Linked DNA regions of Homo sapiens. The protein of the gene in region 1 purifies or fractionates together with the protein of each later gene. This does not show direct contact. Each region holds a gene or a part of one and is shown on either strand. Other genes may lie near its edges. The genes, in order: ATL2, ACRBP and STK39.

Evidence for each region.
Region 2: the proteins of ATL2 (region 1) and ACRBP purify together in Homo sapiens (affinity purification with mass spectrometry, with the first as the bait; one large-scale study listed by BioGRID). This does not show direct contact.
Region 3: the proteins of ATL2 (region 1) and STK39 purify together in Homo sapiens (affinity purification with mass spectrometry; one large-scale study listed by BioGRID and IntAct). This does not show direct contact.

The regions. Positions count from the first base shown.
Region 1 is NC_000002.12:38,375,154-38,378,903, reverse strand, and holds the start of ATL2 (atlastin-2), read left to right. Parts: upstream 1-1,630; 5' UTR 1,631-1,643; coding exon 1,644-1,761; intron 1,762-2,373; exon of another isoform or gene 2,374-2,724; coding exon of another isoform or gene 2,725-2,788; intron 2,789-3,750. UniProt on the Homo sapiens protein: Atlastin-2 (ATL2) is a membrane-anchored GTPase that mediates the GTP-dependent fusion of endoplasmic reticulum (ER) membranes, maintaining the continuous ER network. It facilitates the formation of three-way junctions where ER tubules intersect.
Region 2 is NC_000012.12:6,637,520-6,641,098, reverse strand, and holds the end of ACRBP (acrosin-binding protein precursor), read left to right. Parts: intron 1-576; coding exon 577-756; intron 757-871; coding exon 872-1,039; intron 1,040-2,061; coding exon 2,062-2,145; intron 2,146-2,694; coding exon 2,695-2,817; 3' UTR 2,818-3,024; downstream 3,025-3,579.
Region 3 is NC_000002.12:168,139,513-168,143,162, reverse strand, and holds part of STK39 (STE20/SPS1-related proline-alanine-rich protein kinase), read left to right. Parts: intron 1-2,404; coding exon 2,405-2,514; intron 2,515-2,772; coding exon 2,773-2,874; intron 2,875-3,650. UniProt on the Homo sapiens protein: Effector serine/threonine-protein kinase component of the WNK-SPAK/OSR1 kinase cascade, which is involved in various processes, such as ion transport, response to hypertonic stress and blood pressure.

The DNA.
Region 1 (3,750 bases):
ATTTTTTTGCCCTTCTTCTCCTCCTCCTCCTCCTTCTTCTGCTTCTGCTTCTTCTTTTTCTTCCTTTTCAATACTACGTTTTTCAGGCCAATGATAAAACAGAAAATGTCTTGACAAAGTGAGCTCTCCAAATCATATATCACAAGGACGTAAGAGGAATATCACTTAACAAGTTGATAAAGATCCTGCCATCAATATGAACGAGGGGGAAGGGTAACTGTACTTTAGATTGTGGAGGTGGTTCAAGTCCCAGAACTAGAATCTTAGTAACTCAAAGAATATTGCCAAGAACACGTATATAGTTATTCTCCTAGATTTATGTGACAATGATGACAAACTCCATATTCTGTTGAAATATATTTGGATGGGCCGGGCGCAGTGGCTCACGCCTGTAATCCCAGCACTTTGGGAGGCTGAGGCGGGTGGATCACGAGGTCAGTAGCTCAAGACCAGCCTGGCCAAGATGGTGAAATCCCGTGTCTATAAAAATACAAAAATTAGCAGGGTGTGGTGGCGGGGGACTGTAATCCCAGCTACTCCGGAGGCTGAGGCAGAGAATTGCTTGAACCCGGGAGGCGTGAGCCACCATGCCCTACCTAGAATGGTATTTTGAAAGCTTTAATAACACCAGTGCTTTTCTAGAGATTGTGCATGCTGTGAATTTTAGACTTATGAAAAGACCTGGACAAAACAGCTGTTTGTACACCCGGACATCTGTTTTTACTGGAGAAGAGGAATTTCTAATGCAGCTGGCAGTATGGTAAAAATCCAAAGGGATCATGTTTCACAGACGCCTCCACGGGCTGACTTGTAATTTAAAAAGTGACCTGAACTTTCTACTGGATGTCACTGGATCCCCAGAAGAAGGTTCATCACAATTAGGTAAGAACCTGCCACGATTCATTTTCCGATTAGAGTGCTTTCTGGCATGCCTCTGCAAGGTGCTAGGAGCACAGGGCCAGGGTATACACAGTTGAGAAGATGGGGGAAGGTCTCATAAGTAGATGGGGAGCGAATGCAAACAAACCTTAGGATGGTGGGGGGGAGGGGAAGCAACAGTAGGGACTTGGGTGAGGAAAGAAAAGATCAAGAGGAAAAGCAGGGCACTGGCAACAACTTGGGGGGTGGATGGGGAGAGAGGAGGGGAATGGCTGTGATGAGGAGGGGGCGATGAAAAGGAGAGAAGGGGTGCGAAAGCCACCTCACGTGCAGGACGCACGAATCAACGATTAGAGATGTAAAGCGAATTGGGAGGGAGGGACTTAGTTCTCTGGAGCTCCCTTCTGCGTTTGCAGAGCCTGGCCCAGCGCTAAGGGGGTGTGGTGCTGAGCTCAGGGAGGTGGGGGTGTGAGACGGCGGCGGCAGGGACACCCCCGCCCCAGTCCAACCAGAAACTTGGAGCCGGGGAGACGGATCTGCAGGCGGGCAGGGCGAGGGCGGAGCGAGCGAGCGATGGGCGGGGCGGGGGCGGAGGGAGGGCGAGGAGATACAGGCGGAGGGCGAGGAGATACAGGCGGAGGGCGAGGAGATACAGGCGGAGAGCGGCGCTAGGACCCGCCGGCCACCCCGCCGGCTCCCGGGAGGTTGATAAAGCGGCGGCGGCGTTTGACGTCAGTGGGGAGTTAATTTTAAATCGGTACAAGATGGCGGAGGGGGACGAGGCAGCGCGAGGGCAGCAACCGCACCAGGGGCTGTGGCGCCGGCGACGGACCAGCGACCCAAGCGCCGCGGTTAACCACGTCTCGTCCACGACCTCCCTAGGTACGGGCCAGCGAGGCAGAGGCCGCGGGGCCCTGATGGGGAGAGACGCTCGCTGCTCGGGCTCGCGGGCACCGGCCGCAGGCGGCGGGGTCGGAGTCCGCGGCTGGTTCAGGTCTCCTCCCGCCGCCGCGCCTGCCCGCCGGGCCTAGCCTCAGCCGCGCCCCGCGCTCCCGCAGCGCGCGGCCTGAAAGGGCGGCTCGTGGGCCGCGGCTCCAGTAGCTGCTGGGAGAACCAGTGGCGCGCGCGTCTGCGACCGGCCCGGCCCCCTGCCCGCCAGCCCGCCGCGTGGCTGCCGCCGTGTCCGCCCCGACCTTAGGGGGCGGCCTTGAGCCGTGGCCGCCTGCCCGGGGCGCGGGGAGGTCGGCTGCGGCTCCGCTCCGTCCGGCGAGCTCCGGACGCGGCGGGGCGACCCGTTAGCTGGTGGGCGTTCGCTGTCCCTTACGCGGACAGGGAGGAAGGGGTGGCCAGGGCATGATGGGCCCCGCGGAGGAGGAGGTCGCGCGGGGAGCAGACACCTTGCTGCCGGGTCCGAAAGCTCCTTAGACACCCTTCCTGGAGGGAACCGCAGTCCGCAGGCCAGGGCTCTGTCCCCGGGCTCGCGTTTCGGGGCTCCTCGGCTCCCGAACCCATTCGCGCGGGTTGTGCGTGGCTAGGGTGCAAGTCTAGATTTTCGTGTCAAACTGGGGTTATGAGCCGTTTACGAGTCACTTGGACGATAGTAAGGCCTGATCACTCTGAAAGTGTCTGTAGTGTGAAGTCACCTGATCCTTGGCTCCCTGGTTTTGCTGAATGTGAGCTCCTACTGTACGTGTACCAGGAGCGCCCCTGCCCCCTCGAAGACGCAGTTGCGTTGGCAGCGCAGTGTATCCCTCTCACTCATAACACCCCTATTTATAGGAGTTTAGCGTTTGATCTCTCACTGTGGTGCGAATTGATCGCATGAAATCCTGATTGAAAATTTTGATGGTACTTAAGAAAGGCATAAAGTTTTTTCAAAGGCTTATAAATAGTAAAAGCCTACGATTTGGTAAGTACGGCCAAGATAAGAGTTTATTATTAAATACAGATACGAGCTCGTGTCTTAAGATTTCTTTTTTTACGGTGTGTAAAGGTTTTGCTGGATAAAATGTAAAGCATTTTGGTATGATGTTAACCACAAGGACTCACTTTAATAGGAAAGTTTATTTGAAATATACTTCATCATTCCTGGTAGTTCTTGGCGCATGTCAGAGGTGATGACAGACTGGAGTTTTGCTAAGGGAAGAAGAAAAGGAAATAAAGCTTATTTTATTATTGTCTGCCAACCAAAACGCTTGACTGTTTGTACAGTGGTAGCACTCTGTAGAATAAAAAACTACCAAAGAAGCAGCTTCGCCTTAGATGTGTGCTGGTTGGATTTCTTAAGTAATTAATTGTTTTGGAATGCGGATGGATTAATTTCGCTCTTTTGGTTGGACCCTAGGGGAAGAAGTGTGTGTTCTTTTCTTTCTTTCTCTTTCTTTCTTTCCTTTTTTTGAGGTAAGAGTTTTAGATGCAGTTTCAAAATATTCTATGTATTTACCTTATTAGAAGAAACATAAATTTATACTTCAGTTATGGTTGTGAACGTTGTTGTGCTGTGGTATCTTGAGAAGAGATGATACTCTTCAGATTGTTGTTGAAATAGGGCCCACCATTTATTATTTAATAAATGCTTTTGTCTGCTACTCATAGGTTTTTGTCCTTTGTTTTTTAGGACGGATCAGCAAGACCTTCACTTGATAGCCATTCCTAGCAAATGATTGCCTAAAACAGTCCCTGTACCTGCTAATTTGCTCCGAGTCACTCATTAATGAGTTAAAAACTAAATGAGCTTGGTAGGATTTGTGTTTAAAGTGAGAAGAAACAGACTGAATGAAAAGGACTCATCTATTTTTGACTGTGTAGAAACTCTTTGTCTCCCTCTGCTTCCTGGAGAAATAGCTTCAAAAACCAAGTTGGGGTCAAGTG
Region 2 (3,579 bases), on another chromosome or scaffold:
AGATAAGTGGCTTTGAGCAACTTACTCAACCTCACTGAGAGTCAGTTTCCTTGTCAGTAAATGAGAGTAATATTAGTATCTCTGCTGTTATAGGGTTGTCGTGAAAACTAAATGAAATGAGAGCATGTGTAGCCATAGTGCTGGCACTGGGTCACCTCTTTGTAAATATTAGCATTATCATTAGCAGAGGTGGCAGGGGAGGGTTATGAGTTCTTTTCAGATAGGCTAAGTTGGGGTATCTGTAAGATCACCCAATCACAGACATCTGTCAGGCACTTGGCAATGAGGATTTGGAGCCCAAGAGAGAGATCAGAGCTGGTGATAAAGATTTGGGTGTCACTCGCAGATAGATGATTACCTAGGAGTAGATAAATCATCCAGGAAGAGGGTGAAGAAATAGCTGAGGCAAGGTCCTTGAGGAACCCTTGGGGAGGAGGCCAAGTAGAAAACCCAGAGAAGCTTTTGGAAGAGGCTAAATGCAAAGACATTCTGCAGGGCCCACCCTGGAGGGCTGAGGCATGGGAGAAGGCAGGCCGCTGACTCTCAGCTTCAGCCTCACCCATTCCCCTGCCCCAGGTCTGTGACAGCCTTGGGCGGCGACACATGTCTACCTGTGCCCTCTGTGACTTCTGCTCCTTGAAGCTGGAGCAGTGCCACTCAGAGGCCAGCCTGCAGCGGCAACAATGCGACACCTCCCACAAGACTCCCTTTGTCAGCCCCTTGCTTGCCTCCCAGAGCCTGTCCATCGGCAACCAGGTATCTAGCCCGGCAGCCCGCAGTGGGAAAGGCAGAACTGGGTGGCAGGGGTGGGGTGGTGGTGGCCAGCAGGTGGGGAGGGGCACGCACCTCTCCCCTATCTCCTGTGCCACAGGTAGGGTCCCCAGAATCAGGCCGCTTTTACGGGCTGGATTTGTACGGTGGGCTCCACATGGACTTCTGGTGTGCCCGGCTTGCCACGAAAGGCTGTGAAGATGTCCGAGTCTCTGGGTGGCTCCAGACTGAGTTCCTTAGCTTCCAGGATGGGGATTTCCCTACCAAGGTTAGAACCTTTCCCCAAAGCTCAGCCCCATCCCTACCCTCACCCCATTCCTTCCAGTTACTTGCTGTGAGTAGCGCTAGTTTGTGGAAGGGGGCTTGGGCCCCTGGCTTCTGAGAACCCGTCCTCACTGAATCTCCTGCCTCTCTCCAAGAGACCATTGCACCCCACCCCACCCTCCACCAATAGAGCAGGCAAAGGAGTGGGGACCCAGAGGGCTGAGAAAACAGGAGCTAGAGGTTCTGGTCCCAACTCTGCCAGTTACTTGCTGGGTGGCTGTGATCAAGTCACTTCCTACTCAATCAAAGAGTCATCTCTACAAGAAATGACTGAGTGACACGTGCACCACTGCCCAACCCTGTGATCCAGGACTTCCCGGCCTTAGCCTGACGGGCTTCCCAGCTCTTCCAGTGCCTTCCCTGCTCAATTAAATCAACTTGGCTCCCCGTTCCCCTGAGTTACCTCCCCTGTGGAATGACCTGTTGTTTTAGATCCAGGCCTCTCCTCCTGTAGTTAGCAGGGAAAACCAAGGCAAGGAAAAGTAAGGGCAGCTGAAGCAAGGGCTGGTAGCTGAGCTGGGGGGCCCATGTCCAGCTCTTGTCCCTGGGCCCCTTGATCTGGAATGGGGAGGCGAGGTCCAAAGAAGGCAGTGACTCACTTCCCCCTTCCCTTATCTACCATTACCAGAAAAATCCTTGACATCAGGCCACTAATCGGGTCCCTGTCCCATGTTCTGGACCCTTATCTACCCCGTCCTGCCCCATTCCCGCTTCCTCAGCCACTTTCCCAGTAAGCTGACTGGCAGCCTCATACTCTCCCAGGCTCCTGGCTTCTTCCCAGCAACCTGTGACAGAGCGGCAGGGGAAAGGCAGAGGGAAAGCGGAGTGAGGGGCCGCCTGTGTGTGGAAGACCTGGGTCTTGGGCCACACCCTGCCCCTGGCTCTGCCCTAGCAGATATTCCCTGGAGTGCTGCTGCCTGGTGAGGCTTCTGATACCCTCTTCCCTCTCTCTGGCTCTTGGCTTAGATTTGTGACACAGACTATATCCAGTACCCAAACTACTGTTCCTTCAAAAGCCAGCAGTGTCTGATGAGAAACCGCAATCGGAAGGTGAGCACCCCTGCCCTGCCCCTCCTTCTCCCAGCACCCCCTCAATCAGTCACCATAACTGGTCTATTCTGAGGCCCCCTCTGCGAGCAGCTAGGATGTGGAAAGCGGTTCCTGCTTGCATCTCTGGGGCAGAGGCCTCCACCAGCAGGCTCTCCTCCATTCCTCCAGTCCTGGCGGAAGCAAGGCCCTCCTAGGCAGCTGGTGGATAACAGAGGAGGGTCCTAAGAGCACCACAGGAAGAACCCTTGGCTGGGCCAGGACTTGGACGTTGAGGTCTCGGTCTGTCTCCTCTTCTTACTCACCAAGTAGCCTGGGATGAGGCACTTCCCCCTCTGAGCCTCAGCCGCCTGTTTCTGCATGAAAGGGGTTGGGCTGCTTGATGTCTCCTCTGGCTTTAAAAACCCACATTTGAGTTTCCTCCTTCCCTCTACTGCCCTGTGCCCATGCCTGCCCACCTCTCGTTCTTTTGGGCTTCTGACACCTCCCCTCCTCCCCACTCCTGGCACCTGGCTCTGTGATACAGACCGTCTGCACTGAATCTCTGTGTAGGTGTCCCGCATGAGATGTCTGCAGAATGAGACTTACAGTGCGCTGAGCCCTGGCAAAAGTGAGGACGTTGTGCTTCGATGGAGCCAGGAGTTCAGCACCTTGACTCTAGGCCAGTTCGGATGAGCTGGCGTCTATTCTGCCCACACCCCAGCCCAACCTGCCCACGTTCTCTATTGTTTTGAGACCCCATTGCTTTCAGGCTGCCCCTTCTGGGTCTGTTACTCGGCCCCTACTCACATTTCCTTGGGTTGGAGCAACAGTCCCAGAGAGGGCCACGGTGGGAGCTGCGCCCTCCTTAAAAGATGACTTTACATAAAATGTTGATCTTCAGCCTGTGTGGCCTGTTCTGGTTATGATCCCCATCCTCAGCACTGCTACCCTGCCCCGTGGCAGTCAGTCCCCAACCCCTGGTTTTATGGATCCACCTGCCGGTGAGAGAATCTCATGGGAATGGTGCTCAGGGAAGCAGCCATCTGCCAGGAGAAGCAGAAGACCTGAGAACCCAGGGAGGTGAACTGAGGAAGGCCAAGAAGGCTGGGGCCCTAGGGATGATGTGGGCATGTGGGCACCTGTCTTCATTTCTGAAGCCCTAAGCCCCGTGATGTCAGATGCGAGTGTAGTATTGTTCCTCTGTAGGATAAAGGCCAAAGCCTGATGAGATCTTTTCCAAAGGGACCAATCCTGGGGTATAGGGAGTGTGCACCTTGCACTTAATCAGGAAGGGAAAAACCAGGAACTATAGCCTAGATCAGGAAACCTTGGGGTTGTTTTTGTTGTTGTTGTTTTGTGTTTGAGACAGGGTCTCGCTCTGTCACCCAGGCTGGAGTGCAGTGGCATGATCACCACCCACTGCAGTCTTGACCTCCTGGGCTCCAGCCACACTCC
Region 3 (3,650 bases), about 130 Mb from region 1:
CCAGTTATTCCTGGAGGCAGGGAGATGGACTGGCTAACTTTATGTGTAGCCTTTGATTCTGTGTTTCTAGAGAAATGTCTGTGGTTTTGTACCCAAGTGAATCTGGCTGCATTCCCTTTGGCTGTATAGATGTACCCCTTAGGAAACAAGGACAGCTTTTCACTGTTACAGTTCTGCCACCTTGTTCTAACTGTCATATGCAAGCTATCTCAATATAATATACCAATTTTTTGTGTATATAACATAAGCACACTATGTACTTTGCTCAAAATGTTCTGTTACTGAGTACATATAATCTGTATACACATCAGCCGTACATAGGAGCAAATTGTATATTTCTTCTGTAGTCATAGAGGGAGTAGATATTAGGATTGTTGTTTTCTGCTCCTGAAATTTTTGTTCTGAGTTTTAAAGACATTTAGCCATCTGTTTATGACTTTAAAGTGAGTGTTCAAAGTGGAGGCTCTGAATGTATGTATCATTACAGATATATTGAAAGGGTATTGTCAATAATAAATGGCTACTATACATCTTTTTCGGCTGTTTTCTAACTTTTTAAAATGTGTAATGTAAGCAGGTAGTATTTTTAAGGAAGTGGAAATATATCTAATGTTAACTATGGATTTTTACCTGGATTATGTCTTTTAGGAAGAGACTTTAGGGTGCAGAGTTGCTTCAATTGCATTTAAAATAATCAATTTTTCCTTAAAGCAGCTTTTACCTGTATCCTTAATTTATAGATGATATGTATTTATTTCATATTATATTATAAAATCATTTTAATAAAAATGAAATGTTGGATTCATCGTTGAACTTCTTTTTAGAAATATAAATTAAGTTGAAATTAGTAGCTTTCAAAGTTTTATCATATATATTTTTTCCAGCAGATATAGTAGATGCTTACAAATATTTTAATTCACCTAACTCTTCTCTAAGAGAATGAATTGTATCTTCTCCCACCCACAGGAGACTGACTGGTTCCAGAGATTTCTTTTCACAAGACTTCAGTTTTCTGGCTGCAGTATAAGAATTAAAAGGGCTTTAGAGTTGGAAACATATATGCATATTAAGTTATTTAGCAGTTTAAACATATATACTTTTATTCAATATGAACATGAGAGTAGCAGTTGGAACAAAGACTCCATTTGTCAATTTTCATTCCTTTTATTTGTAGTTGAAATCCTGTTGGGAGTATGAGTAAATTTAAATATAAATAAAATGCAACATTCAATGTATTTCTACTCAGGAAACCAGTTACAATGTTATTAAGTTACAATTGCATAAACTAACCTTATAGGCCTACAGCAAATGCTAATACATTTTGACCTTGGTTTGTACTTGAGGGTGTTTTTTGGTAATTGCTGTCACCCTGACAGCCAACAAGGGGGACTCGCAAAGGAAAAGCGTATGAGAGCGATTTGCAGGGGCTCAGACTGCACATTGCGCTGTGGTGTTTTGATGTGTTGCCTACCTGTTTTTATTACTACCCACCAGCTCGCTATCAAGTAGTCCTTGACCTGGCTATCATTGATAGGTACACTAGTCTTGAGTAATTGGTACTTTAACTTATCAACTACTTTTAACCACTGTGTAAAAATGAAAGCAAGAATAGTACGTTAATAATTGCCAGGCATTCCCTTCTGTACTGTACATACAAATAGAATTTTTACACATGTGCCTGTATGTATATATAGGTTGAGTATCCCTAAATCAGAATATGTGAAATCTCAAATGTTCCAAATTCTGAAACTTTTTGAATGTGAGGTGACATTCAAAGGAAATGTTCACGGGTACATTTCAGATTTCTGGTTTTCGAATGAGGGGTACTTAACTAGTTTAGTATATAATGCAAGTATTTTAAAATGAGAAAAAATCCAAAATCTAAAACATTTCTGGTCGCAAGCATTTCCGGATGCTCAATCTGTACAGTATGCCTAATTAATTCATCTTCTTATAAAATTAACTTCTATATATAATGAGTTAAAGTTAAGAAAAATATTATTTACTTGTACAATCCATTGCCTCTGTACTTATGAAAATTGTCCAGAAAATCAGTCTTTGCTGACTAAGCTTTTTTGCATATGGACATACTCGGGCATGTTGGCTTTATATATCTTATCTTTATATACCTCAGCTAAAAGCTAACACCCTTTATATTTAATTTGGTATGCTAAGCTTTTGGACCGGCAGGCTTGTGGCCCATTACCAGCGATGGTATTCTCCAAGGTGTAGGGGATAGCAGAGGGCAGGTCTTCCTTTTTTTTCCTGAGAGAGCACCGTAGACATGTTTGGAATAGTTCATCACCACTGTAAAGCTCACAAAGAAGAGACATGCTCAAAAAATCACAATTTATAAGCAATAATGTCTTACATAAAATAAAGGTGATTTTTTTTTCCCTTTCAGATTTTGGGGTAAGTGCGTTCCTAGCAACAGGGGGTGATGTTACCCGAAATAAAGTAAGAAAAACATTCGTTGGCACCCCATGTTGGATGGCTCCTGAAGTCATGGAACAGGTAAAAAAACAAAAAAAGTGACTTTTTGATGGACATAGTACAATCGTACAGATCATTAATATGCTAACATTTCATTTGTATCTAGCATTTTAGTAGAATGCATAATGTAACTAAGATTTAATTCTCAATTGCTAGCTAATTAGCAAACTAACGTGAAAGTTATACATCAACAGCTGTGGATTTCTGACATGACATGGACTTGATGATGTGTAACATGCCTGCTGTATGATTGTGTTTTTTTCCTGCTTTCTTTCTTAGGTGAGAGGCTATGACTTCAAGGCTGACATGTGGAGTTTTGGAATAACTGCCATTGAATTAGCAACAGGAGCAGCGCCTTATCACAAATATCCTCCCATGAAAGTAATTACAATTGGAAATACTACATCGGGGTTGAAATGTGATTGGACGGAATCTGTTTTCTAATTCTCTTCAACATCTTCATTCTTCTCTTAGACCCGAGGAGAATTAATGGAGGAACGCAGCCAAGTTGAACATTGTCTGATTTTCTCAGTGGACAGAATAGGACAAAAGTAGCATAATTCCCAGCTTTGAAGCTTGCTTTATAGTCTCAGCACAGAGTTAAGAAAATAATGTTATCAGATTGGTTGATGGAGGTTGATAGCTATGACAAATGCTGGTCATTACTCTTTTGATAGCAGAACAACGCCAGGTTCCCAGAGAATATCTCAAAATAGATTATAGTGATGTCATCTCTGCAAATGGGTTTCCCAGATTTTCAGAGCTTTTTTTTTTCTTTCTTTTTAAGTGGACTACAACATTTTTACCCCTGCTCTTATAGTGTAATGTTGGCAACTGATCTGATATAAGTGAGCCACAGTGTTTTTAGGATGCTATTTTCACGTTTCTGCTCTTCTTTTAACTGGTTTATACCTCATTATTTCTCTTAGTTCTGAGATAGTGGTATCAGGGCTTATTTACCCAACTGGATTTTGTTTTGAGGCTGAAATAGTTTAGTGAAATTATAATGCTATTTTACATAGAGTATGGTCTATGATTGTTTCATGGTTACTGGAAAAATTTGGGAGGATTTATTTTAAAAACCCAAGAATAAAAAGTGAGTTTTACTGATTAAAAGAAGTAGTATACTCATATTGTAGAAAGTTTGGATGTGCAAC